2 separate regions of the Homo sapiens genome follow, and region 2 is linked to region 1. Evidence: fine-mapped expression QTL. A gene starts in region 1. The other region holds a variant in brackets. All regions are shown on one strand. Distances are from middle to middle. Region 1 holds the start of RNF213-AS1 (RNF213 antisense RNA 1). Region 2 overlaps ENDOV (endonuclease V).

What was found.
Region 2: its variant is fine-mapped to the expression of RNF213-AS1 in unexposed skin (GTEx, PIP above 0.99).

Annotation. Positions count from the first base shown.
Region 1 is chr17:80,413,566-80,416,472 of GRCh38, forward strand. It overlaps RNF213-AS1 (RNF213 antisense RNA 1), which reads right to left and starts at 1,603. Exons shown (of 2, transcript NR_029376.1): 1 at 1,364-1,603. ENDOV (endonuclease V) reads left to right here and starts at 1,602. Exons shown (of 10, transcript NM_173627.5): 1 at 1,602-1,685; 2 at 2,085-2,256. The coding sequence starts at 1,630. RefSeq lists an enhancer at 2,035-2,124.
Region 2 is chr17:80,435,519-80,438,425 of GRCh38, forward strand. It overlaps ENDOV (endonuclease V), which reads left to right. Exons shown (of 10, transcript NM_173627.5): 10 at 615-2,568. The coding sequence ends at 625. Among named protein-coding and RNA genes, the nearest start is that of MIR4730, 18 kb to the left of the region's middle. The variant C/T (reference allele first, on the strand shown) is at 1,158.

The DNA of each region.
Region 1 (2,907 bases):
GTGGGTGACGCTCATTCGCTGAAAACTGACCCTGCTTTCAAAGCCTTGTCAGTTCCCAAAGCTGTATGAAGCCTTTCCTGAGCCTCAACCTCTAGAGTCTAATTTCATCCTCTGTATTTTCCCCTTTGTTAGTCCAAACTGCGTCATTTTGTAAGCCCCTTTCCATTTTGTAGACCTTGGTCAAAGTGAAACATTCCACGGGGGTTCGAGCCATGAGAAACAGCCTGCCTCTTAACATATTCTGCTGGGACAAAGCGCCAGGAACACCACATTCTGCCGGAACCACCTCATCCTGGGAACACGTTAACATCTTCCCGGACAGCAAGCCATACTGCCTAGATCCCTCCTGCCCAGGCCTATGAGTACCCCAGCCTGTAATCGCTGGTGGGCTCTGGCATTAAGCTGGCCCCCGACAGGTGTTTGCAATACACCTGTGTTGCTGTAGAGCCGCCCGCGCGCCGGCAATCTCACTGTGCGTCATTCTTTAACCTTCACCTTCCCTTCAAAACCTAACACCCTTGACGTTTATATTCAGGCTATTATATATACATACACACATACACCCTTCTGAATCCTCCCAGGAGAATATAAAACCATGGGTTAAACTGCTACACTTCAGCTTCAGTGGCTGCCTTTCAGTGCTTCAAATACACCAACCTCTTTCCCACCCCGGGACCTGCACGAGAAAGCTGCTCCACTCACCCGCCGTGCTCTTTCACTCACCCTTCAGGTGTCTTCAATATCGCCTCTCAGGCCTTTCCCAACCACCGGTTTAAAGTCGGCTCCCCACAAATAAATACATATTCTCCCTCACAGTACTTCGCACAACACCTGGCACAGCGAGAGCACTGAACCAACACTCATTCAATGAGGAACACGAGGTAAGAACCAAGACCCCCCAAGGTCGCCGTACTTTGTCTGGTAGGAGAAGCTTTCTGCCCAGCAAGGTCCGACCCAGATGAAACCCCGTCCAAGTCTGCAGCACCCCCGTGAGTCCAGCCCGCTAAACTGTGAAGAATTTAAATACACGACACCTGCCCTCAAAAGCTTGAGGGCACCCCTGAGCTGCCATCGAGGTGGGGGCGTCAACGACAGGCGCTCAGTAAGTGCTCCTGAGGCAACTGCCGGGCTGTCCTGGACCTGGTGAATCCTTTCGGGGTTCAGCAAAGGCGGACGCTGACCGGGCCAAGGAGTGGGACCTGCAGTGCTGGACCACCCTTTTCCAAGCGCAGAAGTGCCGTGCCCGCCGGCTCTCAACAGGGCAAGAGGCCCCTCTCGCCGTGCAGAGCGCAGCGCTTGCGGCGGGGACAGCAGAGGCGGGACGGGCGTCACGGAGTTCCCGGGTCCTCGCGCGGTCACTTACCTGGCCTCAGCTATCCGCTGAAAAAGGGGCGGACGGCCTCCCGGGATCCGAGCCGATATCGCGCGCGGCGCCGCGGGGCAACCTGAAGCCGTGTGCGTGCGTGTGCGTTCACGCAGGGGCTCACCCAGCGGCCACGGGCTTCTGAAGACCCGGGTGGGAAGTGCGGCCCGGGAAAGCGCAAGCGTCTCCATGGCAACGAGGGCGGACGGCGTCAGAGCGAGTCGCTTCCGGAAGTGACGTGCGGAAGGGGTGCCCGGGACGAAGCCATGGCCCTGGAGGCGGCGGGAGGGCCGCCGGAGGAAACGCTGTCACTGTGGAAACGGTAATGCTGTCAGGCGACGCGCAGGAGGCGGGGGCCGAGGCCGGGCGGCCCTTCGCGGACCCTCCGAGCTCATAGTCTTCAGGCTGTGGAATCGGAGCTGCCACCGCCCGAGACTCCAAAGCAAAGCCCAGTTTCCGGCGCGGAAGCGGAGGGATCTCAGGAATTGTAGTCCGCGGGGTGGGCGCGGTTCTCGCTTCCGGCCAGTTTGTCTGGCCTGCGCTTGCGCGGGTCTCCGCCGCCTGGGCTCCTAGGGACTGTGGCCTCGGCGGTATGTCCCTTGCTTTCCCTTGAAGCGGGAGAAGACCCGGCAGAGGCGCTCTGTCCGCTGCAGCCGCGCGGGTGGAGGAGGCAGAGTCTGAGGTGTGACCCCGACCAAGTTTGACGCTTCTGTCCTCCTAGGGAGCAAGCTCGGCTGAAGGCCCACGTCGTAGACCGGGACACCGAGGCGTGGCAGCGAGACCCCGCCTTCTCGGGTCTGCAGAGGGTCGGGGGCGTTGACGTGTCCTTCGTGAAAGGGGACAGTGTCCGCGCTTGTGCTTCCCTGGTGGTGCTCAGCTTCCCTGAGCTCGAGGTAACCTGGGAGGACGCCGAGCTCGAGGCGGGCCCCTCGGTGGGCTCGGGCGTGCGGTCTCCGGGACAGGGAGCAGTGCAAGCGTAGAACCCGGCTTCTCGTTTTGTAGGATGTCATTAATAGTCTGGGGAGTTGGCCGGGCGCGGTGGCTCACGCCTGCAATCCCAGCACTTTGGGAGGCTGAGGCGGGGGAATCACCTGAGGTCGGGAGTTCGAGACCAGCCTGACCAACATGGAGAAACCCGGTCTCTACTAAAAATACAAAATTAGACGGGTGTGGTGGCATATACCTGTAATCCCAGCTACTCGGAAGGCTGAGGCGGGAGAATCGCTTGAACCCGGGAGGCGGAGGTTGCGGTGAGCCAACATCACGCCATTGCACTCCAGCCTCGGCAACAAGAGCGAAACTCCATCTCAAAAAAAAAAAAAAAAAAAAAAAGTCTGGGGAGTCTTGGAAGGGAAAAAAAGGCAAAAATTAAGGGAATTCTGTGACTATTAAGAATCAGCTCATGAGCTTTATCTTCAAGTCTGATTGTTATCTTGGGTTCTTCATCTCAGTGACCTGTCCACCACGCTCCCAGTTGCCCAAGCTGGAGATCTGCATCCTCCTGGGCCCCTCCGTTCCTCTCGCGTCCAGTTGCACACTAGCTC
Region 2 (2,907 bases), 22 kb after region 1:
ATCATGGCTCACTGCAGCCTCGACCTCTTGGGCTCAAGCAATCCTCCTGGCTCAGCCTCCAGAGTAGCTGGGACTACAAGCATGTGCCACCATGCCTGGCTAATTTTTTTTTTTGAGACAGAGTCTCGCTGTGTCGCCCAGGCTGGTGTGCGGTGGCGTGATCTCGGCTCACTGCAAGCTCCGCCTCCCGGGTTCACGCCATTCTCCTGCCTCAGCCTCCTGAGTAGCTGGGACTACAGGCGCCCGCCACCACGCCCAGCTAATTTTTTTTTTTTTTTCAGTAGAGACGGGGTTTCACCGTGTTAGCCAGGATGGTCTCGATCTCCTGACCTCGTGATCCACCTGCCTCAGCCTCCCAAAGTGCTGGGATTACAGGCGTGAGCCATTGTGTCCGGCCTAGTTTTTCAAGATTTTTTTGTAAAGACAGGGTCTCACCATGTTACCCAGGCTGGTCTCCAACTCCTGGGCTCAAGCTTTCCTCCCACCTCGGCCTCCCCAAGTGCTGAGATTACAGGCGCGAGCCACTGCACCTGGCCCATTTCCACTTCCTCCTTTCCACTCTGAACGCCTTTTATTTCTTTTTCTTGCCTCATTGCTCTGGCTGGAACGTCTAGCACTTTGTTGAACGTGGTGGTGAGAGCACACGTCCTCGTCTCATTCCTGATCGAACGCGGTGGTGAGAGCACACGTCCTCGTCTCGTTCCTGATCGAACGCGGTGGTGAGAGCACACATCCTCGTCTCGTTCCTGATCGAACGCGGTGGTGAGAGCACACGTCCTCGTCTCGTTCCTGATCGAACGTGGTGGTGAGAGCACACGTCCTTGTCTTGTTCCTGATCTTAAGGGAACGTTTGCAGTCTTTCACCACTAGATGTGATGTGAGCTGTTAGATTTTCAAGGATGCTCTTCATCCAGCTGAAGACGGTCCCTTCTAGTCCTAATTTGTTAAGTGTTTTTATCCTTAAAGGGTACTGGATTTTGTCAAATGCTTTTCTGGCCTCTATTGAAAAGATCCTGTGTTCTTCTGTGAATATGAGGTGTTACATTGATTGATTTTCATATGTTGAGCCAGTTTCCATTTGTGGAATACATCTAACTCGGTCATGGTGTATAATCCATTTACTCTGCTGCTGAATGTGATTTGCTTGTATTTTGGTG[C/T]GGATTTTTACATCTGTATTTATAAGGGATATTGGTCTGGTGTTTTCTTATGATGTCTTCCTTTGGTTTTGATATCAGGATAATATTAGCCTCATAGATTGGGTTAGGAAATGTTCTCTCCTCCGTTTTTTTTGGAAGAGAGAGATTGGTGTTAATTCTTGCTAGAACCTTTGGTAGAATTTGCCAGTAAGCCTATCTGGTCTTGGGTCTTTGGGAGGATTTTGATTCGATTCAATCTATGTATTTGTTATAGATCGTTCGGATTGTCCATCCTTGAGTCAGTTGCTAGCTTGTGTGTTTCTTGGAGTTTTTCCGTTTCGTCCATGTTATCTCATCTGTTGGCATACCGTCGTTCACGGGATTTTATTGATGTGTGTGAGGTCTCTGAGAACGTCCCTGCCTTCACTCCTGCTTTTAGTCACTGGCATCTTCTTTTAACTTGGGCCATCTGGCCGTGCATGGTTTTGGGAGAGTCCTCCTTGACTCTGCAGATGCTGAGCAGTGATCTGGCTGGGAAAGGGGACCAGGAGTGCAGGGCACCTGCTGAGGACTCACCTAAGCCCAAGAGTCAGAGAGTCGGAGCTCCAACCACATCTGCCTGCATGCCTTTCCCAGGCTCTCCCCAGGCGGACAGCCAGCACCCCCTCCCCAAAGACCGGGCAGTTCCTGACCAGCACCCCACCAAGTCCTCAGTAAGGCCTGTCTTTGGGGGAGCAGGGTTTCAGGAGGACAGTGGGGGTGGTGTAGAACTCATGGCTGGCGGTTCCGGGCCTCTCAGGAAGCTTTGCCACTGGGCTTGGGGTTAAGTGGGTGTGGGGCTCCGAACCCTAAATGGGTGAGAGTTGAAATGAAAGCGGCACCTGTAGTCCGTTTGGGGTGCAGGTGTGTGCCAGGGGTCTTCAGCCCCGGCTGATGGCCACATGAACCACATGAGGAGAGGCAGGGCGTGTCAGCAGCAAACCTAAGTGTGTGCTCATTTCTGTGGGCCCTTACTCTGTGACACTGCAGCTCTCCAGAGAGACGCTTTGAAAACAAAACAGGAAAGAACACACGGCCCCGCGTCTGTTGCCTGAGTCACTGTATTCCTTAAAAGGTGAAGGACCCTGGTCCTTGGCTTTTCGTGCACATGAGAAAATGTTGGCCAAGGTTAGCGATTATGCTTCTGTAATCTGTAACCAGAAGTGCTCTTATGCCCAAACCTTGATGTGATTCTGCTGTAATGTAACTTCGGAGCCAGCTGGATGGATGTGACTGTGCAGGTCCTGAGCCCCGGCCCCCGTAACCAAGCAGTGGGCCGAGACACTGAGCCGGGCAGTCAAACAGGAGCTCTCTAAGGCTGCTCCCGGGCTGGGACCTGGGTCTAGGATTCTCAGTAAGACCTTTGAATAAAACTAACTTGAATTCTTCAAAAGCTTGATTTTTTTTCTTCAGTCAAAAGCATCTTGCAGAGATGCCAGCCCACCGTGGGGATGTGCAGTGGCAGCCCTGAGCTGGCCCAGCCCCTTTCCCCAAGGCTGCTCTGGGGAGGGGGGCGGGTTTGGGGGAGTAGAGTGCAGGGGATTGAAGCAGGGGAAACAGGGTGTGAGGGTCAAGGGGGGCTAGAATTGGGGGAGCAGGTTCACGGGCCAGGGGCTGGGCAGGGGTGGGCCTGGGCACCTGGTAGGTGGGGGAGCCCCAACTTCCCATCCCTGCGTCACACGCCCTTCCCCTGCAGGGTGGGGGTCTGCAGGGTTGGCATGTGCCCCCCTGC